Regions from separate parts of the Homo sapiens genome. Here region 2 is linked to region 1. A link means that fine-mapping ties the variant in region 1 to the expression of a gene that starts in the linked region. Tissue or cell type: thyroid. Region 1 holds a variant in brackets; the other region holds the start of a gene. All regions are shown on one strand. Distances are from middle to middle.

Region 1 (8,557 bases):
AAAGAAAGATTCCGGACACAAACGGCCACAAGTTGTATGGTTCGTTTTATATGAAGAGTTCAGAATAGACAAATCGATAGAGACAGAAGTCACACGAAGACAAGCCCATAGTGGAGCCTGGTGAGTATGGCACTGGCAGTGGTGCCTGGAGGTGGAGGACGGGAGGAGTGGGAGGGGCTGCCAAGGCCCACGGAGTTTCTTTGGGGTCCGGAAATACTCTGGGGCTAGAGAGTGGTGATGTTTGCTCAACCTTGTGTATAGACTAAAAAACCATTCAATATCTCAATAAAGCTGTTATATTTTTTTAAAAAAGCAAAGTTCTAGCATTTGCTTCAAGGAAGCCTGTGGCCCTGCACAGAGGCAAAGGTGGGCAGGGGCTGCCAGGGGCAGGGCTGCAGAGAGGGCAGGGGGAGAAGCGAGGGGTGCAGGGATCACAGAGATCACCACTCACGTCCAGACCATAGCAGAGCAGGCCTAGCGCTGGGTGCCCAGGCCCACGGGAGAGCCCACCTGTGAGGGCACCTGTGGGAACAAGGCTGGCCTGAAAGTCACTGGCTCCATGTGACAATCAATGAAACAACCGAGTTTCACAGGAGCTCTGTAAATCCTAGGAAGCAGGTCTTAGGCTCAGCTGGGGACCCTTGGCAGGTGGCTACCCTGAGCCAGCTGATGGCTTTTTTTTTTTTTTTTTTTAAGAGACAGGGTCTCTCTCTGTTGCCCAAGCTGGAGTGCAGCCATGTGATCACAGCTCACTGTGGCCTTGAACTCCTGGTGTCTCATGTGTCCCTGTGAAGGGACCACCAACCAGCTTTGTATGAGCAACAAGGCTGTTTATTTCACCTGGGTGCAGGCAGGCTGAGTCCAAAAAAGGAGTCAGCAAAGGGTGGTGGGATTATCATTAGTTCTTACAGGTTTTGGGATAGGCAGTGGAGTTAAGAGCAATGTTCTGGGGGCAGGGGTGGATCTCACAAAGTACCTTCTCAAGGGTGGGGAGAATTACCAAGAACCTTCTTAAGGGTGGGGGAGATTATGAAGTACATTGATCAGTTAGGGTGGGGCAGAAACAAATCACAATGGTGGAATGTCATCAGTTAAGGCTATTTTCACTTCTTCTGTGGATCTTCAGTTGCTTCAGCCCATCTGGATGTATCCGTGCAGGTCACAAGGGATATGATGGCTTAGCTTGGGCTCAGAGGCCTGACACCTGGGCTCAAGTGATCCCCCTGCCTCAACCTCCCAAGTAGCTGGGACTACAGGCTGGACTGCACCTAGCTAATTTTTAAAAAATATTTTTTTGTGGAGACAGGGTCTGGCTGTGTTACCCAGTGTGGGGAAAAGCAAGAGAGATCAGATTGTTACTGTGTCTGTGTAGAAAGAAGTAGACATAGGAGACTCCATTTTGTTATGTGCTAAGAAAAATTCTTCTGCCTTGAGATTCTGTTAATCTATAACCTTACCCCCAACCCCGTGCTCTCTGAAACGTGTGCTGTGTCAACTCAGAGTTAAATGGATTAAGGGCGGTGCAGGATGTGCTTTGTTAAGCAGATGCTTGAAGGCAGCCTGCTCCTTAAGAGTCATCACCACTCCCTAATCTCAAGTACCCAGGGACACAAAAACTGCGGAAGGCCGCAGGGACCTCTGCCTAGGAAAGCCAGGTATTGTCCAAGGTTTCTCCCCATGTGATAGTCTGAAATATGGCCTCGTGGGAAGGGAAAGACCTGACCGTCCCCCAGCCCGACACCCGTAAAGGGTCTGTGCTGAGGAGAATTAGTAAAAGAGGAAGGAATGCCTCTTGCAGTTGAGACAAGAGGAAGGCATCTGTCTCCTGCCTGTCCCTGGGCAATGGAATGTCTCGGTATAAAACCCGATTGTATGCTCCATCTACTGAGATAGGGAAAAACCGCCTTAGGGCTGGAGGTGGGACCTGCGGGCAGCAATACTGCTTTGTAAAGCATTGAGATGTTTATGTGTATGCATATCTAAAAGCACAGCACTTAATCCTTTACATTGTCTATGATGCAAAGACCTTTGTTCACGTGTTTGTCTGCTGACCCTCTCCCCACAATTGTCTTGTGACCCTGACACATCCCCCTCTTCGAGAAACACCCACAAATGATGAATAAATACTAAGGGAACTCAGAGGCTGGCGGGATCCTCCATATGCTGAACGCTGGTTCCCCGGTTCCCCTTATTTCTTTCTCTATACTTTGTCTCTGTGTCTTTTTCTTTTCCAAATCTCTCGTCCCACCTTACGAGAAACACCCACAGGTGTGTAGGGGCAACCCACCCCTACATCTGGTGCCCAACATGGAGGCTTTTCTCTAGGGTGAAGGTACGCTCGAGCGTGGTCATTGAGGACAAGTCGACGAGAGATCCCGAGTACGTCTACAGTCAGCCTTACGGTAAGCTTGTGCGCTCGGAAGAAGCTAGGGTGATAATGGGGCAAACTAAAAGTAAAATTAAAAGTAAATATGCCTCTTATCTCAGCTTTATTAAAATTCTTTTAAAAAGAGGGGGAGTTAAAGTATCTACAAAAAATCTAATCAAGCTATTTCAAATAATAGAACAATTTTGCCCATGGTTTCCAGAACAAGGAACTTTAGATCTAAAAGATTGGAAAAGAATTGGTAAGGAACTAAAACAAGCAGGTAGGAAGGGTAATATCATTCCACTTACAGTATGGAATGATTGGGCCATTATTAAAGCAGCTTTAGAACCATTTCAAACAGAAGAAGATAGCGTTTCAGTTTCTGATGCCCCTGGAAGCTGTTTAATAGATTGTAATGAAAAGACAAGGAAAAAATCCCAGAAAGAAACGGAAAGTTTACATTGCGAATATGTAGCAGAGCCGGTAATGGCTCAGTCAACGCAAAATGTTGACTATAATCAATTACAGGAGGTGATATATCCTGAAACGTTAAAATTAGAAGGAAAAGGTCCAGAATTAGTGGGGCCATCAGAGTCTAAACCACGAGGGACAAGTCCTCTTCCAGCAGGTCAGGTGCCCGTAACATTACAACCTCAAAAGCAGGTTAAAGAAAATAAGACCCAACCGCCAGTAGCCTATCAATACTGGCCTCCGGCTGAACTTCAGTATCGGCCACCCCCAGAAAGTCAGTATGGATATCCAGGAATGCCCCCAGCACCACAGGGCAGGGCGCCATACCCTCAGCCGCCCACTAGGAGACTTAATCCTACGGCACCACCTAGTAGACAGGGTAGTGAATTACATGAAATTATTGATAAATCAAGAAAGGAAGGAGATACTGAGGCATGGCAATTCCCAGTAACGTTAGAACCGATGCCACCTGGAGAAGGAGCCCAAGAGGGAGAGCCTCCCACAGTTGAGGCCAGATACAAGTCTTTTTCGATAAAAATGCTAAAAGATATGAAAGAGGGAGTAAAACAGTATGGACCCAACTCCCCTTATATGAGGACATTATTAGATTCCATTGCTTATGGACATAGACTCATTCCTTATGATTGGGAGATTCTGGCAAAATCGTCTCTCTCACCCTCTCAATTTTTACAATTTAAGACTTGGTGGATTGATGGGGTACAAGAACAGGTCCGAAGAAATAGGGCTGCCAATCCTCCAGTTAACATAGATGCAGATCAACTATTAGGAATAGGTCAAAATTGGAGTACTATTAGTCAACAAGCATTAATGCAAAATGAGGCCATTGAGCAAGTTAGAGCTATCTGCCTTAGAGCCTGGGAAAAAATCCAAGACCCAGGAAGTGCCTGCCCCTCATTTAATACAGTAAGACAAGGTTCAAAAGAGCCCTATCCTGATTTTGTGGCAAGGCTCCAAGATGTTGCTCAAAAGTCAATTGCCGATGAAAAAGCCCGTAAGGTCATAGTGGAGTTGATGGCATATGAAAACGCCAATCCTGAGTGTCAATCAGCCATTAAGCCATTAAAAGGAAAGGTTCCTGCAGGATCAGATGTAATCTCAGAATATGTAAAAGCCTGTGATGGAATCGGAGGAGCTATGCATAAAGCTATGCTTATGGCTCAAGCAATAACAGGAGTTGTTTTAGGAGGACAAGTTAGAACATTTGGAGGAAAATGTTATAATTGTGGTCAAATTGGTCACTTAAAAAAGAATTGCCCAGTCTTAAACAAACAGAATATAACTATTCAAGCAACTACAACAGGTAGAGAGCCACCTGACTTATGTCCAAGATGTAAAAAAGGAAAACATTGGGCTAGTCAATGTCGTTCTAAATTTGATAAAAATGGGCAACCATTGTCGGGAAACGAGCAAAGGGGCCAGCCTCAGGCCCCACAACAAACTGGGGCATTCCCAATTCAGCCATTTGTTCCTCAGGGTTTTCAGGGACAACAACCCCCACTGTCCCAAGTGTTTCAGGGAATAAGCCAGTTACCACAATACAACAATTGTCCCCTGCCACAAGCAGCAGTGCAGCAGTAGATTTATGTACTATACAAGCAGTCTCTCTGCTTCCAGGGGAGCCCCCACAAAAAATCCCCACAGGGGTATATGGCCCCCTGCCTGAGGGGACTGTAGGACTAATCTTAGGAAGATCAAGTCTAAATCTAAAAGGAGTTCAAATTCATACTAGTGTGGTTGATTCAGACTATAAAGGCGAAATTCAGTTGGTTATTAGCTCTTCAATTCCTTGGAGTGCCAGTCCAGGAGACAGGAGTGCTCAATTATTACTCCTGCCATATATTAAGGGTGGAAATAGTGAACTAAAAAAAATAGGAGGGCTTGGAAGCACTGATCCAACAGGAAAGGCTGCATATTGGGCAAGTCAGGTCTCAGAGAACAGACCTGTGTGTAAGGCCATTATTCAAGGAAAACAGTTTGAAGGGTTGGTAGACACTGGAGCAGATGTCTCTATCATT[G/A]CTTTAAATCAGTGGCCAAAAAATTGGCCTAAACAAAAGGCTGTTACAGGACTTGTCGGCATAGGCACAGCCTCAGAAGTGTATCAAAGTACGGAGATTTTACATTGCTTAGGGCCAGATAATCAAGAAAGTACTGTTCAGCCAATGATTACTTCAATTCCTCTTAATCTGTGGGGTTGAGATTTATTACAACAATGGGGTGCGGAAATCACCATGCCCGCTCCATTATATAGCCCCACGAGTCAAAAAATCATGACCAAGATGGGATATATACCAGGAAAGGGACTAGGGAAAAATGAAGATGGCATTAAAATTCCATTTGAGGCTAAAATAAATCAAAAAAGAGAAGGAATAGGGTATCCTTTTTAGGGGCGGCCACTATAGAGCCTCCTAAACCCATACCATTAACTTGGAAAACAGAAAAACCGGTGTGGGTAAATCAGTGGCCGCTACCAAAACAAAAACTGGAGGCTTTACATTTATTAGTAAATGAACAGTTAGAAAAGGGTCATATTGAGCCTTCGTTCTCACCTTGGAATTCTCCTGTGTTTGTAATTCAGAAGAAATCAGGCAAATGGCGTATGTTAACTGACTTAAGGGCCGTAAACGCCTTAATTCAACCCATGGGGCCTCTCCAACCCGGGTTGCCCTCTCCGGCCATAATCCCAAAAGATTAGCCTTTAATTATAATTGATCTAAAGGATTGCTTTTTTACCATCCCTCTGGCAGAGCAGGATTGTGAAAAATTTGCCTTTACTATACCAGCCATAAATAATAAAGAACCAGCCACCAGGTTTCAGTGGAAAGTGTTACCTCAGGGAATGCTTAATAGTCCAACTATTTGTCAGACTTTTGTAGGTCGAGCTCTTCAACCAGTTAGAGAAAAGTTTTCAGACTGTTATATTATTCATTATATTGATGATATTTTATGTGCTGCAGAAACGAAAGATAAATTAATTGACTGTTATACATTTCTGCAAGCAGAGGTTGCCAATGCTGGACTGGCAATAGCATCTGATAAGATCCAAACCTCTACTCCTTTTCATTATTTAGGGATGCAGATAGAAAATAGAAAAATTAAGCCACAAAAATAGAAATAAGAAAAGATACATTAAAAACACTAAATGATTTTCAAAAATTACTAGGAGATATTAATTGGATTCGGCCAACTCTAGGCATTCCTACTTATGCCATGTCAAATTTGTTCTCTATCTTAAGAGGAGACTCAGACTTAAATAGTAAAAGAATATTAACCCCAGAGGCAACAAAAGAAATTAAATTAGTGGAAGAAAAAATTCAGTCAGCGCAAATAAATAGAATAGATCCCTTAGCCCCACTCCAGCTTTTGATTTTTGCCACTGCACATTCTCCAACAGGCATCATTATTCAAAATACTGATCTTGTGGAGTGGTCATTCCTTCCTCACAGTACAGTTAAGACTTTTACATTGTACTTGGATCAAATGGCTACATTAATCGGTCAGACAAGATTACGAATAATAAAATTATGTGGAAATGACCAAGACAAAATAGTTGTCCCTTTAACCAAGGAACAAGTTAGACAAGCCTTTATCAATTCTGGTGCATGGCAGATTGGTCTTGCTAATTTTGTGGGAATTATTGATAATCATTACCCAAAAACAAAGATCTTCCAGTTCTTAAAATTGACTACTTGGATTCTACCTAAAATAACCAGACGTGAACCTTTAGAAAATGCTCTAACAGTATTTACTGATGGTTCCAGCAATGGAAAAGCAGCTTACACAGGGCCGAAAGAACGAGTAATCAAAACTCCATATCAATCGGCTCAAAGAGCAGAGTTGGTTGCAGTCATTACAGTGTTACAAGATTTTGACCAACCTATCAATATTATATCAGATTCTGCCTATGTAGTACAGGCTACAAGGGATGTTGAGACGGCTCTAATTAAATATAGCATGGATGATCAGTTAAACCAGCTATTCAATTTATTACAACAAACTGTAAGAAAAAGAAATTTCCCATTTTATATTACTCATATTCGAGCACACACTAATTTACCAGGGCCTTTGACTAAAGCAAATGAACAAGCTGACTTACTGGTATCATCTGCACTCATAAAAGCACAAGAACTTCATGCTTTGACTCATGTAAATGCAGCAGGATTAAAAAACAAATTTGATGTCACATGGAAACAGGCAAAAGATATTGTACAACATTGCACCCAGTGTCAAGTCTTACACCTGCCCACTCAAGAGGCAGGAGTTAATCCCAGAGGTCTGTGTCCTAATGCATTATGGCAAATGGATGTCACGCATGTACCTTCATTTGGAAGATTATCATATGTTCATGTAACAGTTGATACTTATTCACATTTCATATGGGCAACTTGCCAAACAGGAGAAAGTACTTCCCATGTTAAAAAACATTTATTGTCTTGTTTTGCTGTAATGGGAGTTCCAGAAAAAATCAAAACTGACAATGGACCAGGATATTGTAGTAAAGCTTTCCAAAAATTCTTAAGTCAGTGGAAAATTTCACATACAACAGGAATTCCTTATAATTCCCAAGGACAGGCCATAGTTGAAAGAACTAATAGAACACTCAAAACTCAATTAGTTAAACAAAAAGAAGGGGGAGACAGTAAGGAGTGTACCACTCCTCAGATGCAACTTAATCTAGCACTCTATACTTTAAATTTTTTAAACATTTATAGAAATCAGACTACTACTTCTGCAGAACAACATCTTACTGGTAAAAAGAACAGCCCACATGAAGGAAAACTAATTTGGTGGAAAGATAATAAAAATAAGACATGGGAAATAGGGAAGGTGATAACGTGGGGGAGAGGTTTTGCTTGTGTTTCACCAGGAGAAAATCAGCTTCCTGTTTGGATACCCACTAGACATTTGAAGTTCTACAATGAACCCATCGGAGATGCAAAGAAAAGGGCCTCCGCGGAGATGGTAACACCAGTCACATGGATGGATAATCCTATAGAAGTATATGTTAATGATAGCGAATGGGTACCTGGCCCCACAGATGATCGCTGCCCTGCCAAACCTGAGGAAGAAGGGATGATGATAAATATTTCCATTGGGTATCGTTATCCTCCTATTTGCTTAGGGACAGCACCAGGATGTTTAATGCCTGCAGTCCAAAATTGGTTGGTAGAAGTACCTATTGTCAGTCCCATCAGTAGATTCACTTATCACATGGTAAGCGGGATGTCACTCAGGCCACGGGTAAATTATTTACAAGACTTTCCTTATCAAAGATCATTAAAATTTAGACCTAAAGGGAAACCTTGCCCCAAGGAAATTCCCAAAGAATCAAAAAATACAGAAGTTTTAGTTTGGGAAGAATGTGTGGCCAATAGTGCGGTGATATTACAAAACAATGAATTCGGAACTATTATAGATTGGGCACCTCGAGGTCAATTCTACCACAATTGCTCAGGACAAACTCAGTCATGTCCAAGTGCACAAGTGAGTCCAGCTGTTGATAGCGACTTAACAGAAAGTTTAGACAAACATAAGCATAAAAAATTGCAGTCTTTCTACCCTTGGGAATGGGGAGAAAAAGGAATCTCTACCCCAAGACCAAAAATAATAAGTCCTGTTTCTGGTCCTGAACATCCAGAATTATGGAGGCTTACTGTGGCCTCACACCACATTAGAATTTGGTCTGGAAATCAAACTTTA
Region 2 (8,557 bases), 29 kb after region 1:
AAGTTGGTTGTGCCCACTGAGAGAAGACCCTGAGCCCATCTGCTGGCGAACACAAGTGGCCCGAGCTCATCTCAAGGTCCAGGAACCCTGGGGACTCACCCCTTCCTCTGGGCACCAGGAAGAGTGGTGGACCAGGGGTCCAGGTGCCAGCCTGGCATGTCCCACTTGGTCGAGTGTCCTTTCATCTCTGTTCAGGTTCCCATCCTGGAGATGGGCCACAAGGGATCCAGTCCAGGGCTGGGGGAGGCAGCCCTGTGGGAGGAGGCCCTTGCTAGTGAAGGGTCAGAGGCATTTGGAGATGGGCAGGCCCAGTGGGATTCTTGGGGCCACTGCCAGGATTTGGTTGTCGGTCCCTTCCTTGTGCCAGCCCCCTTTGCTGCTGCGTGTGGCTTTGATGAATAAGAGATGAGGAAGCATATTAATTATGGCTTAACATGCACCAAAGTTGGGCAGAGGGACTCCTAGGGATGGGAGTCCTCAGGGGTGCAGAACTGATGGGGGAAGACCAGGACACCCTCTGCAGCCCTGGGGATGGGGGATGGTGAGAGGCTTCTGGAGGAGGCAGAGGCTGTGGGCAAAGAGAGGGCTGAGAGAGGCTGCCAAGACGTGGGTCCACCTAAGCTCCCCAGACCTCCTTCTCTGGTCTGGAAAATGGGTGGTGGTAGTAGTGTCTACACTGCAGGACTGAATGGGATGACTCACTCAGCAGGCCTGGCACAGAGTCCTCTCGGGCCTTGGGCATGCAGCCACCCTCTGTGGTGAGAGCAGATGGCAGGCTGACGCCCCCCAGCTCCCTGGCACCGGGACCACATCCCTAGCCGCCCACTCAGAGTGCAGGGAAGGGTTGGTCACATTGACACGCTTGGGCAGCAGGCATGTGCTTGCCGCATGACCTTCTAGCTTCCTTCCTGGTCTCTCCTTGCATTGGCCTGGAGTGGCCCAGAATGTGTGGAGCAAAGACCCAATTTCCTTGCTGCCCATCCCTCCCCAGGAGACACCGAGGGCCTGGATGTCCGTGAGAACCGCACAGGCATGCCAAGGAAAGCCATGGCACGCCTATCTCTCCAGGCGGGAGATGAGCCTCCCGAAGCCCTGGGAAGAAGGGACCTTCCAAGGAGGCTGAACCGTGTCCCTGTCAGCCCAAGACGGGCCACTGCGAAAGGTCCCCTCATCTCAAGCTGGCTTCTATGGGCAGGCATGGAGTTTTGAGTGAAAACCCTGCATGATCCTCTCAGGGGACAGGAGGGGTGAACAAAGGAGGGACAGTGACCAGCTGACCAGGCCCTGAGGCATTAGCGTCTGCCTCGTCCACATGCTGTGCAAGCTCAGCGAGGCCAAGGGGCTGGGCCGAGGTCACACAGCTGGGCAGGGCCCTCATGACCGGCATGCTGGTCGTGGAGGCCGAGCCCCAGGTTGGGGGTGGGGGTGGGAGGTGAGGCAGCCCCTGGCCTCACTGGAGGGGGGTGGTGGGCTGGGGAAGCTGGCAAAGGATGTGCCCTACATGGTGGGTGTGAGGTGGGGAACGATTCGGGCAGATGCCCGTGTGGCCCTGCTGACCCAGTCCAGGCAGGGTGTGACAGGTCTGCCCAGCCCTGAGGTCACAGCTGTCTGCAGTCTCCAGCTCACTCCTGATCCCCAGGGCCACGTGTCCAGAAAGCCTGGGAGCTTGCATCAGCTGGGCACAGATGGCCTGTCCTCCCAGCACCCCTGCTGGGGCTTCCTAGGAACTGACTGGTGTAGACTCCGGGCAGCAGACGGCCAGGCTCTGCCCACAGGGTCCCTGGCTCCTCCCATGAGGTGACCCGATAGAACTGGCTGTGCCCCTTGACCAGGGGCTCCAGCCCTTGTCAAGCCCTCCCTGCTAGCCCCTCACCAGCCGTCAGCTGCCCTCCCTCCCTTGCCCGTTGGGCCCTGGGGGGGTGATGGCTCCGCGGTCGCCTGCCCAGAGAGTACACCACTCCCCATGCTGCCCCCCGACCTGGCTACACCCTGAAAAATGTGGCTTACCAAACCCTCCCACATGCACAGCCTGAGAAGCGGGCTGTGCCTTGCTGGTAGCAGACCGACCGGCTGCCTAGCCCTGCTCAACTCTGCCTCTGCACCCCCATAACTCCCTATCAGCGCTGGCCCACACCTAATCGTTCCAGCTAGCACCCAGGAGTGGGCTCAGCTTCCAGTGGGGAGGGCGCTGGCCAAGGTGCTGACCGAGGTGGCGGACACAGGAAACCAGCCGGTCCCCCAGCGCTCCCTCTGTGGGCCTTGGGCCTGCTCCCACTGCACAGACAGGTGGGGAGGTGGAGGCCCAGGTCCCAGCCCAGAGCAGCTGGGAACAGCCGGACTTGATGGCTGGAGAGGGCTGTGGTGCCAGAAGCCTCCAGGTTAGCCCTGGCTCCCCATTTCCCCCCATGCCCATCCCATGCCCCAGAATGGTCACTTTGGCTGCTGCAGGAGGGGTGGGAGGGGCTTTAAACCTATGAGATAGGGTGTGGGGTCACAATCTTCAATTGTAGTGGGCCGCTCTGGGTCACTGGTAATTGAAGAGACGCCTGCATAGTAAGCACGCAAGTGTCCTCTCAAGCCCTCTCTGCAAGCACAGAGCAGCCCGAGACTGGAGCCTGGTCCACCCCAGCGCTGTCCTCAGACTGATGGTCAGTGCCTCATGACTCATCTAGGGTCTGATACATCCCTGTGGTGAGAGCTCAGTTCCTAGTCTAGGGGCTGCTGCGTGCAGGGACCCTGGAGGAAGAATGCTTGTTTAGGGGTCAGGCCTCAGCCTCCCACTGGCTCTGTCAGCTTCGCCTGAGGTTCCCCATCTGTGCAATGGGTGATGACATCTTGGTGTGGCTCTGGGAGGACCTGTTGAGCCACCTCAGGGGCTGAGCTGGTGGCACTCGGCAGCCAGCACCCTCTGGGGAGGTGGCAGTGTGTGCACAGCCCACCCCTTCAGGAGGCCAGGGGACAGAGTGGCTGGGGGTGTCTGGGCCCCACCTCACCTTCTGTGTGGCTGGGAATGGCATGCACTCCACAATGCCCTCATAAGCCTAGGCTGGGACAAGGGTGATAGGGATAAAGCAGGCCAAGGTGATGAGGGCCACAGAGCGGCAGCCAGAGGCATGTGGGCAGTGCAGCCTCCACACCAGGCAGAGGGCCCGGCCAGCATGGCTCCACCCTGGGAAGCTGCCTGCCACTGGGATCAGATGGGAGCACCAGGGCTCTGGGAGGTCCTCACTTCCTCTGGACAAGGCAGGCAGGTCACCAGCCCTGTGCCCTGCTCATCTCCCTCAGGGCCACCTCCATGGCCAGGGGCAGGCAGAGAGCACAGGGCTGCCCAGTCACCAGGTCTCTCTGCTTCATATCAGTGGACCTGGGCTCTGAGGGGAGCCATCAAGACCTCAGGCTGGCCCACTCCGTCCTTGAGTCAGGGTCCTACAGACTGACACCAGGTTGGCCTGCAAGACCCTGGTCCTGTCATGCAGGGTGGGCCTGGGGAGGACCCAGCCCAGCTGAGCTGACTCCCAGCACTCCTCCAGGTGCAGGGACAGCCTGGCAGTTGTCTGAAGACCCCGGGATGGGCTTAGGAGCTCATCATCATCGGATGCCCCCCGAGCAGAAGACGGAGAAGGAACACCCCCACCCTGTGTGGTGTGTGTAGGGGTGTCACTGGGTTCTCTGGCTCCATGACGCCCCCCCGGCCCCGCTGGGGGCTGGCTTAGTAGAGTGGGGGATGATACTAAGCAGGCGGCCTCGGAGAGCGTCTTCTGGGTTTGGAGGCCACATTCCGCAGGAAGGAAGAGGTGGGGGACCCCTGCAGGGTTATGGGTAACATCAGGCCTGGGTCCCCTCCCTGGGGTGGTGCAGAGAGGGCCACAAAGGCCCAAGAGGGCCCCCAGAACGCTCTTAAGCCTTGAGCCTGTTTCTTACTGAAAAATGGGGGCGATCGTGCTCCAGCAAGGGGCTTCTGTGCAGGGGGCGGGGGGGGGCGGGGGGTTCATGGGTTTCGTGAGGCCAGGAAGCGAGTGGGTCGCGCAGAGGCCATCCCCAGGCCTCAATGGCCCCAGCCGCCATCCCCTCCGCCGCCTGCAGGGCCGCCGCCTCTTCAGGAATGCGCGGCTTTGTCTAGGGCCGGGTGGGCTGAGCACCTCCTGCTGCCCGGCCTACGCTCCCCGGCCAGCCGCGCCGCTCACGCCCCAACTTGGGCCCGCGCCCCCCAGCCCCCGCCCAGGCCCGCGCCCCCCAGCCCCCGCCCAGGCAGGCGCCTGCGCCCAGGTGAGGGCCCCGCCCGCCGCCGCCTCCCGCGCCCTGCGCGCCCGCGGCCCGAGCCCCGCCCGAGCCGGGCGGAGCGGAGCGCGCGGAGCCTAGACCCGCTGCCGGGCCGGGGCTGGGCCGGAGCGGCGGCGCCTGGATGCCGGCCCGGGGCTGGGCCGGAGACTGGCGCCCGCCCCGAAGCGACTTTCGGTCCCCGACCCGCTCCGCCTGACCCCTATGATGAAGAGGGCGTCCACTGGAGGTGAGTGTCCACGCGGCGCCAGAGCCCAGCAGGCGGCGGGGCGCAGAGCGGGGTGGTTCGCCCCTCCTCGGAGCCGCAGGGCCCGTCCAGGGCTTCCAAGGCTGGGGAAGCGTAGCCGGGCGGCCGGGAGGGCCACCGCAGTGCCGCGCCAGGCTGGGGCCAAGGGCGCCCCGGCCCCGGGAGGGCGGAGCCGGAGGCAGCAGGAAAAGTTGCCGCTTCCCGGGTAAGTTGACGGCGATGGCGGGGCCGGGGGTGGCGGCCCGGGGGTCCCCGAGGCTGGGCCAGGTCCGGGGTGGGGGCCGCGGGCTGGAAGGACGGGGTCCGGCCTCGGCGCCGCGGCCACGAAGGGGTTAATGAGCGGGTTTTTTTGCAGAAACGCGGGTACCGAGAGTAGGTGGAGGTATCGGGCCGCCTCCGCCCCCGCCTCGCGGACTGGGCTCAGAACCTCCCGTTTTTCTGAGGTCAGGCCTCAGGGGGATCAATGGGGGCGTTGGCGGCAGTAGAGGGCGTGGGGGACAAGGTTGTCCCAACGCTGCCTCCAGGGCGGGCGGTGAGAGGAGGCAGCAATGCCCAGACATCCGCAGCCCGAGGGACATTGAGAGGCTTGGCTGGGGGAATCAGGGGTGGTGGGGCAATCAGCATCCCCTCCCTGGCAGCCTTCGTGAGACTCCCCCGCCCCACTGGGTGTGAGGTCCCGCAGTGGGGGGCAAGGGAGGGTGGGCTCCATGTGAGTTGGGCATGCCCTGCCTGGAGGGTGCTCCCCAGGTGCCCACCCAGGCTGCCCTGCTGATGTCCATGGTGTCGCAGGCTGCACACACGTTTCCTTGCACGTGCACATGTCTACACGGACTGCACACTTGCACACCTCTGGTGCACATGCGTGCCAGCGCCACCCCAGTGTACACATGCACGAACACTGGGTGCACACACGGACTCTGAGGGTGCATATCTGTGTCCTCGCCCCCGCTTGCACGCCCACGGCCACACATGCATGTACGCGACATGCCTGCTGTGGTCTCCACGGGTGGCACATGCTGGGGCCCCTTTCACAATACCCACTCCCGCACCCACATGCTCGTCTGTTGAGTGGGGAGGCCAGGCCCACAGACAGGGGCAAGACATCCTGGGCCCCACCTCTGCCTGCCTGCCTCCGTGTCCTGGGGGTCCCCGCCTCGGGCGTGTGTGCGTGTGTGTAACTTGGTATGCATCTGCACGTGTGTCTGTGCGCGTGATCATGTGTGCCTGCGAGCACATAGGCATATGTCTCTTTGCCTCCAGGGTGTGGGTGCCCCTTGTGTGCCTAGACAGGCTGTGGCCTAATCTGGAGCAGAGGCCCTGGAATGTGTGTTGGGGGCTCATTGAATGCCCCCAGCCCAGGGTGTGAGGGGCAGGGTCTCCCAGCCACTCCGCACCCACCAGGGCTGAGGCAGTGATAGATGATGGTGGGCTGGAACCTGTCTGGTCAGGGAAGACCCATTTCAGGCCATGAGGTCAACACTGTGACCAACAGGCCAGACCCTGGGCACCCTTGGTGGCCGCTGCAGCTTGGCTGACTGGAGCACGTGACCCAGCGTGACTGCAGAGGCCCCGCCTCCAGTACCTCAGTTTCTCCATGGTGAGGACCTTCTTGGTGAGGGGTTCCGTGGTGGGCTCCCCTACCTCCGGTGTTGTGTAGGGTGCTGAGCAGATGGATGCCATGCTGCATGATGGGCAAGGGTGGCCCACTAGCACTGTGGCAAGGGCCCTGGGCTGGGGCTTCAATTGGCAGGCCACACCTCCTGCTCCCCTGGCCACCACCAGAGGCTCATCTATAGAGTGGGGACCAGCAGGTTATCCTTGTAGGTTGTGTGAGGGTGAAACATACTAGCAGAGGGGCAGCTGAAGCAGTGGGGCTGGCCAGTCTCTTTTTCTAAGCCTCAGTCTTCCCATCTATAAAGGGGGTACTGTTCCCTGTTCTTCTCTACTGAGGTGAGGAGGAAGTGAGCTCCCATGCCGGGGGTGGGAATGGGTGGCCATCAGCACCTAGACCCCACCTGGCAGAGGGGCACGTGCAGGGCCTGCCGTGGCAGAACCGTGACCTGGATTTGGGTCCTGGCTCAGCCACCTGCTGGCAGTGTGACCTTGGGTGTGACAGGTCACCTCTCTGCCTCAGTCTTCCTCACCTGCACCATGGGCCAGTGGTCAGGGATTATCGGGGCACTTCCAGGCTGAGGCTGGGCGGAATTGGCCCGGCTTTCCCTGTGGAGTTCCGACTCTGGTGCTTCTGCCTCAGAATGCCCAGAACACCTCCCCACACCCCAACTCAGCAGAGTCCTCCTGGGACCTTTGCATGGCCAGCTGGCCCCTCACCCCATCCATTTGCAGAAGGGACAATAAAAGCCCCTAGTCAGGCAACTCAGGCCACAGGTGAGTGGAGAGGGGACAGGGCAGGGATGCTGCCCAGCTTGGGAGACCCTCCCATAGTACCTTCACTCCCTCCCTGCCCTCCCCCTGTTCCTCACCTGGGGGTCTGTGGAACCCCTGAGCCTCAGTTTCCCTGTGCCAGGGTCCTTCCACTGGGACTGGCAGAAACGTAGGTTTGCATGGAGTGAGAAGCAGGGGAGAGGTTGAGGGAGGGCCTGGCCCAGCAGGTCTCTGAAAGCCAGAGGGCTTGTGGAGGGTCTATGGAGGACACCCCCACAGGGGCTGGGGCCCTGGAAGGTGGGGGAAGGTCCTGTTGTCCTGGGAGGCTGGGGACTGGCCCACAGCCTGTGGAGGGGCTGGGGTTTGTTTGCTGTTGCTGTGAGTGACAGGCAGGCTGTGAGGGCCAGGGCATGTGGGACCGTGCCCTCCGCCTCCCTCTGCCCAAGGACAGTGCAGCCTTGTAGCACTGCCCTCTCCTCGTCCCTGCCCCAGCCTTGAATTCATGCTTTGTGGCACGGACGGCCCTGTGCAGCCGGTGCAACACCAGGAGGGTCCAGCTGGTGAGGACAGGACGGGTGGGAGGCAGAGGAGCCCTCCTGCTGTCCTGGGCCTGTGGCCCGGAACCTCTCACCGGGAGCCTTGGTCTGTGCACCTGGGAAAGGGGTCAAGAACAGGAAGCATACGGGGAGTTTCAGGATGACCTGGAAATGAACAAATGCATGTGTGAGCCAGGCGCCCTGCCCGGCCCTGGCACAGGGTTAGTGAGGGCTCCCGACGCTTGGCTACTGTCTGATCAATGAGGTTCATGCCGTCCCGCCCCCATTCTGGCAAGCCTGACCTCTGATCCCCAGGCTGGCCTGCCTGACCCTCTGCAGCCACCCAGGGCCTGGGCTTTGGGGTCTGCAGGAGCCGGCCTGGCTGCCTGCTGCCTCTGCAGCTGTGCAGATGCCCTCTCGGGGCCCTCTCTGCACCCCTCAGTGTCCCTGCTCTGCAGCCTGGCTGCACCCAGGCCAAGGTCACAGGCACCCTCCTCGAAGCCAGATCCCAGATGCTGCATTTGCCCCAACTGTCCGTTCACTTTCTCATTTGTTCATTCATTTGCTTGTTCGTTCCTAGCCTGTCAGATTCTCTTCTGAGCCAGGCAAATCAAGGGGTGCAATCCTTGGCATCGTGCATCTCTAGGATTAAATGCTTTAAAGGATAGGAGGTAACAGAGTGGCCCCGGGGAAGCCCGATCGGAGTGGCGGGCATGCTACCCCACCCTGCAAATCTCCCTGCACTGTCCCTGGGGCCCAGCTGGGTTCCCCACACCAGTTGTTCTGTGCTGCCGTTTCTTCTTTTATCGCTGTATTTTAAACACTTTGCACATCGGGAACTATTCTTGTGCATCGTGGGTTTTCTGGTGTGTGTGGAATCCCTTCCTGAGAATGCACCATCATTTATTTATCCAAACCTGCACCGGCCTCCTGCACTGCCTGCAGCCGTGGAGCTGGGCACCGGGAGATGCAGCTCTGCACACCCACCCCACCATGTCCTCAGCTGGCACCCACCAGGTCTAGGGGCTGGTCACGTGCCTCTCCCCTGATGCTTGAGCTGATTTCAGGGGACTCGGCAGCAGGGCCAGATCCCGCCCCTCCTAGCCAGCTG

What was found. PIP is the estimated chance that this variant, and not a neighbour inherited with it, causes the effect.
Region 2: it holds the start of DGCR5, and the variant in region 1 is fine-mapped to the expression of DGCR5 in thyroid (GTEx, PIP 0.94).

Annotation. Positions count from the first base shown.
Region 1 is chr22:18,937,348-18,945,904 of GRCh38, forward strand. LOC122455341 (a long non-coding RNA gene) reads left to right here. Exons shown (of 4, transcript NR_173080.2): 2 at 5-120; 3 at 2,326-2,402. Among named protein-coding and RNA genes, the nearest start is that of PRODH, 5.3 kb to the left of the region's middle. RefSeq lists a promoter at 1-2,390, enhancers at 1,326-2,390, 1,349-1,643, 1,505-2,012 and a silencer at 1,349-1,643. The variant G/A (reference allele first, on the strand shown) is at 4,876.
Region 2 is chr22:18,966,152-18,974,708 of GRCh38, forward strand. DGCR5 (DiGeorge syndrome critical region gene 5) reads left to right here and starts at 4,317. Exons shown (of 6, transcript NR_110533.2): 1 at 4,317-4,507. RefSeq lists an enhancer at 3,398-4,229.